Homo sapiens: one gene and its partners. The protein of the gene in region 3 interacts with the protein of the main gene of each other region in a biochemical or structural test. Each region holds a gene or a part of one and is shown on either strand. Other genes may lie near its edges.

Evidence for each region. The genes of interacting proteins can lie anywhere in the genome.
Region 1: the proteins of DNMT1 (region 3) and CUL4B form a complex in vitro, tested with the Homo sapiens proteins (one study listed by BioGRID).
Region 2: the proteins of DNMT1 (region 3) and EZH2 form a complex in vitro, tested with the Homo sapiens proteins (one study listed by BioGRID).
Region 4: of the proteins of DNMT1 (region 3) and SIRT1, one has a biochemical effect on the other in vitro, tested with the Homo sapiens proteins (one study listed by BioGRID).

What each region holds. Positions count from the first base shown.
Region 1 is NC_000023.11:120,540,463-120,543,962, forward strand, and holds part of CUL4B (cullin-4B), read right to left. Parts: intron 3,348-3,500; coding exon 3,265-3,347; intron 2,572-3,264; coding exon 2,504-2,571; intron 1,259-2,503; coding exon 1,140-1,258; intron 101-1,139; coding exon 1-100.
Region 2 is NC_000007.14:148,811,292-148,814,791, reverse strand, and holds part of EZH2 (histone-lysine N-methyltransferase EZH2), read left to right. Parts: intron 1-654; coding exon 655-833; intron 834-3,071; coding exon 3,072-3,167; intron 3,168-3,500. UniProt on the Homo sapiens protein: Polycomb group (PcG) protein. Catalytic subunit of the PRC2/EED-EZH2 complex, which methylates 'Lys-9' (H3K9me) and 'Lys-27' (H3K27me) of histone H3, leading to transcriptional repression of the affected target gene.
Region 3 is NC_000019.10:10,153,454-10,156,953, reverse strand, and holds part of DNMT1 (DNA (cytosine-5)-methyltransferase 1), read left to right. Parts: intron 1-444; coding exon 445-563; intron 564-1,008; coding exon 1,009-1,101; intron 1,102-1,897; coding exon 1,898-2,049; intron 2,050-2,180; coding exon 2,181-2,368; intron 2,369-2,474; coding exon 2,475-2,661; intron 2,662-3,500. UniProt on the Homo sapiens protein: Methylates CpG residues. Preferentially methylates hemimethylated DNA. Associates with DNA replication sites in S phase maintaining the methylation pattern in the newly synthesized strand, that is essential for epigenetic inheritance.
Region 4 is NC_000010.11:67,915,656-67,918,890, reverse strand, and holds the end of SIRT1 (NAD-dependent protein deacetylase sirtuin-1), read right to left. Parts: intron 2,627-3,235; coding exon 2,298-2,626; 3' UTR 501-2,297; downstream 1-500. UniProt on the Homo sapiens protein: NAD-dependent protein deacetylase that links transcriptional regulation directly to intracellular energetics and participates in the coordination of several separated cellular functions such as cell cycle, response to DNA damage, metabolism, apoptosis and autophagy.

The DNA.
Region 1 (3,500 bases), on a different chromosome or scaffold from region 3:
AGATATCAATTATATGGTCAACCTTATCTTTAAAATCCAGCAATTCTTGAACCATGGTTTTATCTTTTTCAGGATTAATTACAATAGTGCTGCCAAATGCCTAAAACAAAAAATTACCACTTTTTACTGTAATCGAATTGTCTACAATGAAAACAATCCCCAAATCATATTTTAAGTGGCATATATATTTAAAGATCTTTAAAAAGTAAGATAAAGCTATTTTTAAGATGGAATCTTGCTATGTTGCCCAGGCTAGTCTGAAACTCCTAGGCTGAAAGGATCCTCCTGCCTCAGCCTCCCAAGTAGCTGGAGTTACAGGCATGTACCACTGCACCTGGCAAAATAAAGCTGATAGTGAAATGAGGACAAAAAAATAAAGTGCTAAATATCCACACTGTTAACCACTCATCTATAATCACAAAAATAGTAAGCAATGATCACTGGGCATATGATATCATAACAGGGTATTATTAGAAGCCTCTGGGATCTTTTCCTTATTTTTAAAGAAGTCAGCTTTCAACTTCCTTAAAATGGCAATCTGGCTTTAGTGTAAGATTGAAGAAAGGAAAGAAATTTGGGGTTCAAAGTCTTTTTCTACATTTACTGCTTTAAGTGGTAGAGACAGAAATTATGTCAGCCATCAATCAGGTTTTATAGCTGATATGCCACACAGCTACCATTCTCAGGTTGACTGTTCTCAAAATTCCCATTACTTTTTAAACAAATTTAAAATTCCCTTAAAAGAACTGGATCAAGTCCGGGTGTGGTGGCTCACGCCTGTAATCCCAGCACTTTGGGAGGCCAAGGCGGGTGGATCATTTGAGTTCAGGAGTTCAAGGCCAGCCTGACCAACATGGTGAAACCCCGTCTCTACTAAAAATACAAAATTAGCCAGGCATGGTGGTGCATGCCTGTAATCCTAGCTACTTGGGAGGCTGAGGCAGGAGAATCACTTGAACCTGGGAGGCAGAGGTTGCAGCGAGCTAAGATCGTGCCACCGCACTCCAGCCTGGGTGACGAGAGCAAAACTCTGTCTCAAAAAAAAAAAAATTGGATCAAACAAGAAATGCTTGCCAATATGCACTCTTGATGTGTAGATAAGCCATAAGAGAGAAAAATCACAGGTAAATTGTTAATACCTTGATATATTCGATCCACTGCTGCAAAAGAACCTGAACTCCACCTCGAACTCTACTGAAGAGCTGATACAGAAGAGACAAATCTTGAATTCGGTTTTCATCAAGGAGGTTATTTAAACCTGTATTTTAAAACATTTTGGCATTAAAATATAGTGAACAAAAAAGTGAACAAGATTATCAGACATTTTAATAAAATTTGAGTTATAATCATTATTGTGATACTGGTTTGAACTATGACTAGTCTGTATGTGAGTTGTAATGTAAGATTTCCTTTGAATTAAACCCAACCATCTTTCTGGGTAAAAACTAAATATAGAGACTTTAGTCGCTATAAAAATAAAAACAGGCCAGGCACGGTGGCTCACACCTGTAATCCCAGCACTTTGGGAGGCTGAGGCAGGAGGATCAATTGAAGCCAGGAGGTCAAGACCAGCCTGGGCACAACAGTAAGACCCCCTCCCCCTCTCTATTTTAATTCAAAAAGTTAAAAAAATTAAAAAGAAAAAGAAAAATGGTTAACTCCATAATGGTTTGTGCCATTTAGCATGATAGATTAGAGGCAAAAACAAACTTATAAAAACTGGCTTACATAAATATACATTATAAATACCTCATATATGTAGTAGCCATATTATGTACATAGTTATATTTCAGAATACTGGATATAGCCTGTGATATATCAAAAGCCATGCATAAATAGGTCAAATTTAAATGAGGCTCTAATAAATATTTGATTTCCAGGATGAAATAACAGTATAACTGCATTAAATTTCTAAATATATAAATTTTTATACAAAAGAAAATATTATTGGGGAGAAAGGTAAGGCTTTTACCTATTTGCGGCATTCTCAAAGTAAAATGTAGGGTATACTCTAAATTCACTTGGGATTAGAAGTGCTTGGTTTGACATGCCATGAACAACAAAAAACCCTCACCGCTTTAGTGTAAAAAGGAATACCTTTCCTTACTGAAAGCTTACATATTAAGTCAAGAATTTCCCACTTTTTTTCTTTTATTTTATTTAAAGAGACGAGAGTCTCACTATGTTGCCCAGGCTGACCTCAAACTCCTGGGCTGAAGCAATCCTCCTGCCTCAGCCTCTCAAGTAGCTGATACTACAGGCACATATCAACCACTGTTTTTTTATTGGTATTTGTGGATCCCTCTCTTCTAGTTCCTGTATCTTTCAGATAAGAAAACTGGCACCTCCAGGAAGTTTACTGTGATTAATAAGGATTGTGTCCATCCTCAGAAATGCAGCCACATGCTATCAAACTTTTAAAAGGGCAACATCTTTAAAAATTCCCTACTAGTTTGCCACTACCATTTAAAAAGCAATCTCTTATTTACAAATTGCCAATTACCTTTCTGAAGAATTGCTGTTAAGTGTTCACCTAGAAGTTGTTTTTCTACAGTAGCAATTAATGACTTCCTACAAGGAAAAAAAAAAAGGTTAGTATTATTGACGTTTGACTTCCAGAAAATGTAAAGCCTCTCCTGAGGGGGGAAAAAAATCAAATAGCTCATTTTATGTTGATTTCAAGATTCCTATCCTATGTATAAATTTATTGGTGCTCAGAGTTACTATACTTTATGCCTAAAAGAAAAAGACATAAAGGAACTGACAGGCAAAAATTTTAAAAAAACACTGCATATTTTAGAATTTGGTTTACATAACGAAATAAATATCTCCAAGACCTTGCTGTAGTCGGCTTTTTCCAAGTTTTGCTACTTTTATTAGGAAGGTAAAGAAGTACTACATACAGAGGCCCCTCGACTGGCAATATTAATACTTAGGAAAGCACAGAAATAGGGGAATCCACTGAATTTTAATTGGCCTGAAGAGTTTAAAGGTCACATCAGCCTCTAGTATTATTTCTAAATTACCTTCTAAACACACACACACACACACACACACACACACACACACACCCCTAATAATCGAATCCTTGGATGAAAACTAATTAACTAGGGAAAAGAATAACTTGAAGTTTGTATTATGAAAACAACTGTTAACACTTCAAATCACACCTGAAAACAGTTACTAACATGTTTAGGATGGCTAAAGTGCTGCAAGTGATTTAACGACAGTTTAAGACTATTAAATTCAGCATGTGGTACTTACTGGGTGGTCTGATCTAAGTAAGTAATAAGTCTGTCTGCTTCTTCTTCTAGACGTTTGTTAACATGATGTAGATATTCAGGAACCTACAAAGATAGTTTTTTACATTATTGTTTTCCTCCCCATAAATCATTCAGAAAATGTCAAGTCCAAAAGATCCTGGAAGTGGCCCTGTCAAATGTGACAGGGTAGAATCATATGTAAAAATTTATAGGTAGAGTTTATGATCCAGAATTCTG
Region 2 (3,500 bases), on a different chromosome or scaffold from region 3:
TTGACAAGTATTTATTGAGCCCCATACCTGGCCCTGTGCCAGTGGCCAGTCAGTCGCCTGGGTGTTGTGTGTCTGTGTGTGTGAGGCAGGCAAAGTTGTATTAAAGGAACCTGAATTTTATTTTTTTCTTCTTTGATCATTTAAATTAAGTTGTATTAAAGTTGGCACAGATTGTAAGAGGAATCTAGAAGGAGCTACCCAAATAATTTTTGGGCACCAGAAATCGTCAGAGTTAGGAGGGTTTTAGTCTTCAGATTAAAGGAATGTAGCATAAACATAGTAGATTTTTATAATTGTTTAATGAGACTGCACATGAAGCTTGGGTATTAAGGGAGTGTTTAGAACTAGGGGCTATTGGAATGGTCAAGGACCATGGATATTGTTCCATCCAGACCCTTTATTCACACCGACTTTAAATATATACACTATTTAACAAATGAAAAATGGAAAAACAACTCAGTGGTGGTCTTTTTCAGTGCAAACAGCTATAACTTCGCTGTTAATACTTCCATTTCCTTGTCTATATAGTAGGGTAATAAGGTGGTTGTGAGGGTTGAGAGTCAGTGAGATGCCCAGTACAGCCCTTGCCACGTATCTTTCTGCAAGTTTTTGCATACGGTGATGAGTGAAGAACCTCCAAACCTCTCTCTGAAGGTCAAAACCGCTTTCCGGGATGCCGCTGCAAAGCACAGTGCAACACCAAGCAGTGCCCGTGCTACCTGGCTGTCCGAGAGTGTGACCCTGACCTCTGTCTTACTTGTGGAGCCGCTGACCATTGGGACAGTAAAAATGTGTCCTGCAAGAACTGCAGTATTCAGCGGGGCTCCAAAAAGGTGAGCAACAAGTCACTTCTGGAAGATTGTTTGTAGTTAGCTATTTAGTGATGCAAATGTCAGGATTGCCTTAGATGATTTAGCTGGGGCAAAAAGTAAAAGTGATCCTTGAAAGGTGCAACTGATGAGAAAGTGTTCATAATTTTCTCTGGGTAATGCACCCTTGGGCAGTCTCTTCAGTTTTATATAGAGCACCATACTCTGATAGTAGGAGAAACCAGCAAATTCTGAGAAGTAGCCATTCATGGTATCAGATTTAGGAATAAGAGGTATTTTTTCTACCTGTTTAATAGATTATTTGAATTTGTCTTTTAGTTAATAGTTTATCTAGTATCCTTAATGCAAATAAATGGTGATTTCTATCAAAATATAGACTCATTCTCATCAAAGAGTATTTATAGATTCCTTGCTATGTAGAGTAAAAGATGAAATTTCCCATGGCAGGTTTTTATAGACTTACTTCCTGTTTGTTTAATAACCTTGAAAAAAACCCAGCTAGGAACTATATATTTTTAGTCTGGGGAATTGTATGTAGGTGAGTTAACTCTATCAGCCAGGAAGTAATGATTGAGCAAAAGACACTTCAGCAGCATGTATTTGGGAAATTTCGTATCTTTTTTTTTTTTTTAGGGCAGATGATAAGTTCTTTCTTCAGTCAGTTCTTTTTATAATAATAGCTGACATTTATTAAGCATGTAAAAATAGGCACTGTTGTGAGTGCTTTAGTGGATTTGTTCATTGATTCTCCTAACCCTGTGAGTGAGGAGTAAGTGTTAACCCCCATTTTACGGGTAAGGAAACCCAAAGTCACAAGACTTGTAAAGGAGCAGGAGATCAAATCCTCCAGGCTCCCATTAACCTGCTCTTATGCTCTGTGTGTGTGTGTGTGTGTGTGTGTGTGTGTGTATGTGGGGTGTAGAGTAGACATATCTTTGTTGTTGGACCATTTATTTATAATTGAGAACACACTTCTTACCAGCAAGTCCCCTTCTACCAGAAATTCTGCTCCAGGCAAAACATTGAAGTTCTCTTGGTTTTGTTTGTGTCTTTGAACCAAAGTCTGTGTTTATGGCAGAGAGTTGTGCAGGGTGGTGGGCTTTTTGTTTTTAGCTTTGACTTTTTTCTTTTCTGTTAGACATTTAGATGATTTTACTCTAGGCAGTTATATGTCCATTTAGGTCATTGGATCACAGTGACTCTGGTTCCGTTTCCGATGGCATACCTGCTCAGACCTAAAAATCTCAATTTCCCCCCCAAACAACTTACCATTGTACTCCTTCCTCACTTTGTTCAGAAAGTGGGCAATTCTATTCATACTGACATGTCCTCTTTGTAAGACATTTTTTAACTCTTAAAAATGTTAAACTATGTAGATACCTTTTACCAGTTGGGTTTCATTTGCATAGCAGTATTTAGCTAATTTAGTTTCTGATCAGAAGGCTATTTGGGAAGTTCACATGACAGGTGAGTGGTAAGATGGTCCAGAATAGGAATAGATAGGAAGCCTTTGTAAAGGTCACAAGAAAATTTTGGATGAAAGCATAATACTGAGCCGTGATGAAAAATTGGCATATGTTGGGGAACACATCCCTAAATACATAATTTATAGCAATGATCATCTTGGCATTTCTGCTGAAAATAGACTACTGGACTGACAAGATCATGATAACACCTCCCGGTAGTTTCTTGTGTTATCCTGAGGAGGTGGGGTGGAAGAACAAATCCAAAGCCAAGCTGCTATGGGCTTCAGAGGGAACCAACGCCAGTGAAGAATCAGGGGGTGTCCTGGGGCTGAAAATGGAATAACTATTAATAGAATCACTTGGGGAAAGTAGAGGGAAAGGTATGGAGAGGAAGAGTGATTTGGTGGTGTCCTTATATTAAATTCAGGTTGAAAGTGAATTACTCGAGGAAATCAAGGGCTGAAGATACAGGGAAGCCAAAAGTGCAGCAGGCCTAGAGCACCTTGCTGAACGATGGTCATTGCAGAGGACCAACACCACCAAAAGGTTTTCTGTAAGACAGAGATTCTTATCTGCTGTATAAGGAAAACATAATGTTCATAGCCATTCTCAGCAGCTTTCACGTTGACTGAAGCTGTGTGCCCAATTACTGCCTTAGAACAAACAGGTCTGAGGATTTACAGTGATAGCTTTTGTTTTCATTCTGTAGTCTACTTTGTCCCCAGTCCATTTTCACCCTCCTTTTTTGATGATGTGATTGTGTTTTATTCTCTAGCATCTATTGCTGGCACCATCTGACGTGGCAGGCTGGGGGATTTTTATCAAAGATCCTGTGCAGAAAAATGAATTCATCTCAGAATACTGTGGAGAGGTAAGGCACTGATAACCTGTATTCAGGTGGCATTGTATATACTAACTTTACTTTATTTTAGATTGATTTTATTAGGTAAGTCTGTGGGTTTGATTGGAAATGAATTGCCATAAACTGCCTTTTCAGCCTGGACTTCTGCATGTTTGTGGATTTGCATGCTTAGTAACTGGATTGTGCTGGGCGCGGTGGCCGACTCCTGCAATCCCAGCACTTTGGGAGGCCGAGGCAGGTGGATTGCTTGAGCTCAGGAGTTGGAGACCAGCATGGGCAACATGGCAAGACCCCATTGCTACAAAAAATGCAAAAATTAGCCGGGCGTGGTGGTGCATACTT
Region 3 (3,500 bases):
TAATCCAGTGTTCCCGCAACCAAAAAATGAGTGTCGGGGCCAGGCATGGTGGTTCAGCCTGTAATCCCAGCACTTTGGGAGGCTGAGGTGGGTAGATCACTGGAGATAAAGAGTTTGAGACCAGCCTGCTACACATAGTGAAACCCCGTCCCTACTAAAAATACAACAATTAGCCGGGCATGGTGGTTCAGGCCTGTAATCCCAGCTACTCGGGAGGCTGAGGCAGGAGAATTACTTGAACCCGGGAGGTGGAGGCTGCAGTGAGCCAAGATTATGCCATCGCGCTCCAGCCTGAGGGATAGAGCAAGACTCTGTCTCAAAAACAAACAAAAAAAGAGTGTCAGACTTGTACATTCTCTCATTGCCTCGTGCCTGATCTGAAGTCTGCACGAAGACCCGCCTTCACGGCTTAGCTGGTAAGCATGTGCTTTGTTTCCTGTCTAGTGTGTACTGTAAGCACGGTCACCTGTGTCCCATCGACACCGGCCTCATCGAGAAGAATATCGAACTCTTCTTTTCTGGTTCAGCAAAACCAATCTATGATGATGACCCATCTCTTGAAGGTAAGGAATAGTCCGGGATTATGTTTGGGGCACACTTTAAAAACAGCCAGGCAGGGTGGCTCACATCTGTAATCCTAGCACTTTGGGGGTCTGAGGCCAGAGGATCACTTGAGCCCGGGAGTTTGAGACGAGCCTGGACAACATAGCAAGAGCCTGCCTCTATTAAAAAAAAATATATAGCATATATATATAGTATACATATATACTTATATATATGTATAAATAAAAAACATACTTATGAAGCAATAGTCAGCTGGAGTTGCTGCTGCCTCTTAAAGTTAGGGTGTGAGACTTTGTGCCAGGAGCAGCTGTAGGCCAAGTCATTGTGATGACTGAGGAGCACCCGACCTGGCTGATGGGATGTCTGCTGAGTGGGCGCTTAGAGCGCCTCCTGGGTTTGGGATGTGAGTCAGAGCCTTTAGTCCATTTCCTTTTTCTGCTCTAGGTGGTGTTAATGGCAAAAATCTTGGCCCCATAAATGAATGGTGGATCACTGGCTTTGATGGAGGTGAAAAGGCCCTCATCGGCTTCAGCACCTGTAAGTGTGTGGCCCATCATAGGCTGGCCGGGGTCTGAAAGGGGCCTTCATGTTCTCCTTCCTGGGGGCTGACGGGGCTCTGGTGGGAATTCTCAGCAGGCTTGCAGAAGGCCATGTGACTGGGAACCTTAGCAGGTTCAGTTGGGGTAGCCTCTTGTGTTAGTTATGACTGGCTCTGGAACTGACTCTCCAGTTGTAAGAGCAGGTCTTGGCCGGATATGGTGGCTCACACCTGTAATCCCAGCACTTTGGGAGGCCGAGTTGGGGGGATCATTTGAGGCCAGGAATTCGAGACCAGCCTAGCCTGGCCAACATGGTGAAACCCCCTCTCTACCAAAAATACAAAAATTAGCCACGCATGGTGGTGCATACCTGTAATCCCAGCTACTTGGGAGGCTATGGCAGGAGAATCACGTGAACCCAGCAGACAGAGGTTGCAGTGAGCCGAGATCACGCCACTGCCCTCCAGCCTGGGTGACGGAGCAAGACTCTGTCCTCCCCTGAAAAAAAAAAAAGAGCAGGTCTTATTCTTGCAACCCAAACCCAGACTGAATTCCAAACACCAGAGATGAGCTCAATGAAGGCCTACTCAGCTAGTCTTCGCTCTCTGGCTGGCTCAGACAGGCTTCTTCAGAACAAGCCAGCTATGATGTGTTGTGCCCTATGTTTCTGACATTTGGGTACGGGATGACTTTTAGACTGTTGGGTGAGTTTGGTAGACTCCTCCATGCCCTGTGGCCACTGTAGGCGCCATCAGATTCCAGCCCCTTTTCCACACCTCCTCTGTTCACCCCAGCATTTGCCGAATACATTCTGATGGATCCCAGTCCCGAGTATGCGCCCATATTTGGGCTGATGCAGGAGAAGATCTACATCAGCAAGATTGTGGTGGAGTTCCTGCAGAGCAATTCCGACTCGACCTATGAGGACCTGATCAACAAGATCGAGGTAAGAGATCGAGGGTCCTCAGCATCCGGGATTCCCACTGGAAACTTGCCTTCAGAACCAGCAGACACTGTTCTTCAGTTGGATTTAGGCCAGTTTGGCTTAAGCATGAGAGAAACCTGTTCTCTTTCAAGACCACGGTTCCTCCTTCTGGCCTCAACTTGAACCGCTTCACAGAGGACTCCCTCCTGCGACACGCGCAGTTTGTGGTGGAGCAGGTGGAGAGTTATGACGAGGCCGGGGACAGTGATGAGCAGCCCATCTTCCTGACACCCTGCATGCGGGACCTGATCAAGCTGGCTGGGGTCACGCTGGGACAGAGGTAAGGATGCGGCAGGGACCAGAGTGAAGACTGGAGACCGGGGAGGGTAGAGCATGGCCCACATCCTCTGTCCCAGTCCTCTGAGATGCTGGAACCTCTCCCGTAGGCGAGCCCAGGCGAGGCGGCAGACCATCAGGCATTCTACCAGGGAGAAGGACAGGGGACCCACGAAAGCCACCACCACCAAGCTGGTCTACCAGATCTTCGATACTTTCTTCGCAGAGCAAATTGAAAAGGATGACAGAGAAGACAAGGAGAACGCCTTTAAGCGCCGGCGATGTGGCGTCTGTGAGGTAACCTCACCTGTGGGTGCTCCCGCTCCCCTAAGGTGGCCCAGCCTCTGGCCTGATCTGAGGACTGCTCCATCTTTCTCTCTGTGGCTTGAGACTCTGGCTGCTCAAATGTGACCCCTGAGACAGAAATTAGTTAGTGGTCTGGGAGGACCCTGCATACTTCATTGAACGTCAATAGGACAGATGTCCACAGAGGCATGCTTGGGTGCTTTGCTGATAATGCCACTGTCCTTAATTGAAGAGCCTGGCTTCTGGGTGGCTCTGCTGTGCCTGCATCTCACAGTCTGAAGGCCCCTGTTGGACTGCTAAAGGGGTATTCACATCTAAGTGGGCACTTTGTCCAGCTTAGATTTGAGGCCCTCAGGAGGCGTCCCTTTCTGTGAGTTTTTAAAATATATGTTTACTTCACTCAGGAGGAACTAACTTCCTAGTCCTATGACCCAAAGACCAGGACTATTTTGATACCTATTACCTGACTTTCTTTTGGATAAAGACTGGCTTCAGGGCTTTGCTTTTGATCCCCGCTGGCATCTCTTAACAGGAGCCTGCATGTCCTCACCATTGTTATTTTGGTTTTATTTTATTTTTCTTGGTTAACACACGTGTGTCCAATGTTTTATAACTTCTAAAATCTTTTTTTTTTTTTTTTAATTTTTTTGAGACAGTCTCTCTCTGTCACCCAGGCTAGAGTGCAGTGGCACCATCTCAGCTCACCGTAACCTCCGCCTCCCGGGTTCAATCAGTTCTCCCACCTCAGCCTCCCGAGTGGCTGGGATTATAGGCACCCGCCACCATACCCGGCTAATTTTTTTTGTATTTTTAGTAGAGATGGGGTTTCA
Region 4 (3,235 bases), on a different chromosome or scaffold from region 3:
TCAGTAATACTTTCGCCCTCAAAACCTTTAATGGCTTAAGTAGGTTCTCAGGTCAGCCTCAGAAAGTTGATACCAAATGTGGTCTGCAGTCTTCAGACTTGAAAGACCTAGCATCCCAGAACAGATTTTCAGTTAACCCAGCCTTTGCATCAGATGGATTTTCACTATCCACCACTTCCTGTTCTCTCTCAAATCCCAAACTCCTGGTCCTTTATCATAGGACATGTCACATCCTTCTTAGGCCCTGCCCTGCCTTTTCTCCATGTTTTACTTGCTCAGGCCTCTAGCCTAGAATGGCTGAAATAGTTTTTGAAATGCTTGGTGGTGATGCATCACCTGCTACGATCAGCACCATCAGGGTTTTGCAAGTACTGGTCTGGTGAGACTAATGTAATAAACCAAATGAAGAAATGTAGTATGAGAAAGAAAGCATCTAATACTATAGCATTCGAAGCTGTACAAATTCTGTAAGACTTAAAAATTATATACCTTAAACAATGTAAGTTAACAGAAAAAAGTCAAATGACAATTTTAATAGACTTTAAAACAGTGTACAAGTAAAAAACACTGGTTTTGTATTTCAAAAGTTGAAGGAAGATATCCAGTCATTAAACAGTCTACAAAACATATGCCAGTAAATTACATAAAAGACTATGTACAATATAAAAAGAGCTGAAAACAGTCTTCACTGTAAAAATAATTTAAAACAAACTTTTCAATTTAAAATATCATCTATAGCACACAAACATCATGCAAATGGAAAACTAAATATACTGCATTCTTTAGTGTAGCCAAATAAATTCAGATTGAGACATCTTATAAGTAGGGAAATGGCCATTCAATACGATTTTTTTCTCTGGCAGTAATGGTCCTAGCTGGGTGTTTTATGCATAAAGAACAGCTATATTTCAAACCCTTTTTATTGTAATAAATACTAAAGCAACAGAGGAATACTTTATTAATTTAGGAGTGATGTTCAAAAATGGTCTGAAAAATAAATGCTTACTGTGCAATTTCATAAAGTATGAACTTCTTGAAAGACTAGAAGCTTTTGCAGCTGAGAAAGTTGATCTCTAGTTTTAAGGCAGGCTAAGCTTTTAAATAAAGATAAATTATAAGAACTAGTTTCATTCATTAACTATTCTGCTATTACAAGTTACATCATCATGTTCATCTCCATAATACTAGGGCTAGCAGTTTGGTATTTAACACCAAATCCTCCCAATGGGAGACATGTACTTTCTGGCTGAATTACAATTAACATCTTATTACTTTGGAACTGTATAATCAGGGGCCTGTTGCTCTCCTCATTAATGGAAAACAGCAGTCCAAAATATTACACTCTCCCCAGTAGAAGTACCATTATTATAGATTCAGAAAGGCTTTGCATATTCACATTTTGGCAGTTTAATACTTGTGGAAAAGATCAATGCAAGCTCTACCACAGTGATAGGTATTTAAACAACAATGGCAAATATTTCAAAACTAAGGGGATCCAGGCAGGCACTAATGTTTCTAAAGCAACTGAAACATTTCCAAAGCATTTATTTGTTTTTCAGGTTAGTTTTATGAGCCAATATAGACATTGCTACATGTCCACAGGAAGTACAAAAGCCATCTTCATTTGAACGTAAATACAATAATCCTGAAATTCTTAGCACCAAGTATTACTTTTAAAAGTAAAGACAACCGAGTGCTCTCCCCACATATTGTTGACTTCCTTCTACTCACACTGCATGTCATTTGAGATTTTAAAAAGTTAGCTGCCACAGTTTTGGAAAATGCCAGTGTTTAAAAATAATTGTGTTAAAGAATCAAAAGTTTAGCGTAACAGATTTTGAGTACTTCAAACCATTCAATGTTACAAAGAAAAGTGAAAATACCATTCTTTGGTCTAGATTAGCTGTTCCCTTTACATTAATTTAACATTCCGATGGCTTTTTGAAAACTTTAAAAATGTTGAAACTCACTAGACAAAACAAAAAAAATTATATATACACATATGAATTTATCATACAAATGAACCTTTAAAAGAAAGTTAGTCTTGACCAACAGCTGATTGAAGATACTTAGTACCTTTTTTTTTTTAAAAAAAAAAAAGTTAGTGTTGAGTTTGTACAAGTACAGAAATAATGAAGTTAAAAATTATCCATGAAAAACAATCTATTTTACCAACCTATAAATATTACACCTTTCTGGTTTCCTTGCTCTATCGAGTTCACAAGTAAACATTCATTTTGACATGCTAAAGTTCCTAATGCTGGTGGAACAATTCCTGTACCTGCACAATTATTACACTATGATTTGTTTGATGGATAGTTCATGTCTGTTACTTCCTGTTTCACAGATATAGCTTCATTAATTGCCTCTTGATCATCTCCATCAGTCCCAAATCCAGCTCCTCCAGCTCTCTCTGGAACATCAGGCTCATCTTCTAAGCCATTGTAGAATTCTTCAATTTCACTTTCATCCTCCATGGGTTCTTCTAAACTTGGACTCTGGCATGTCCCACTATCACTGTTACTGCCACAAGAACTAGAGGATAAGACGTCATCTTCAGAGTCTGAATATACCTCAGCGCCATGGAAAATGTAACGATTTGGTGGCAAAAACAGATACTGATTACCTGAAATACAGTAATAAAAATGTTACTTTCAGTTTTCTAACACTAACTCAGTCTGAGCAGTCTGGAATGAAGTGTGGGTTCCAGCTCTGCCTTTATTATAAGTGTCCTTATGAAAGACTACTATTAGTGTTTAAAAACAACTGGGAGGCATGGTGTGCCTGCAGTCCCAGCTACTCAGGAGGCTGAGGCAGGTGGACTGCTTGAGCCCAGGAGTTCAAGGGCCAGCCTAGGCAACAGAGTGAGGCCCTGTCTCTTAAAAATTAATTAATTAAATAAATACAAGCAATACACTTAGTCCTGGGTTCAAATCTTAGTTCTGCCATTTATTGTATCTTTGTAAGTGTACCTCTGTGCCTCAATTTCCTCATCTAGAATATGAAATAAATTTTCACAACCCTATGAAGGAGGGAAGTGTGAAAAATGTAGAAAACCATATTCAATAAAGGTTATTTCACCAATTATTTTAAAAAGATTTGATGAAAATGAAGTATCCAGCCCAGCCTACATTAGATACCCAATTTGTGTTAAGTAGCTTCTCTAAAGTACACAGGCTTTTAAAGCATCTTCATTAACTATTTTAACTTTTTTCTGATTATAAACCTAAAATAT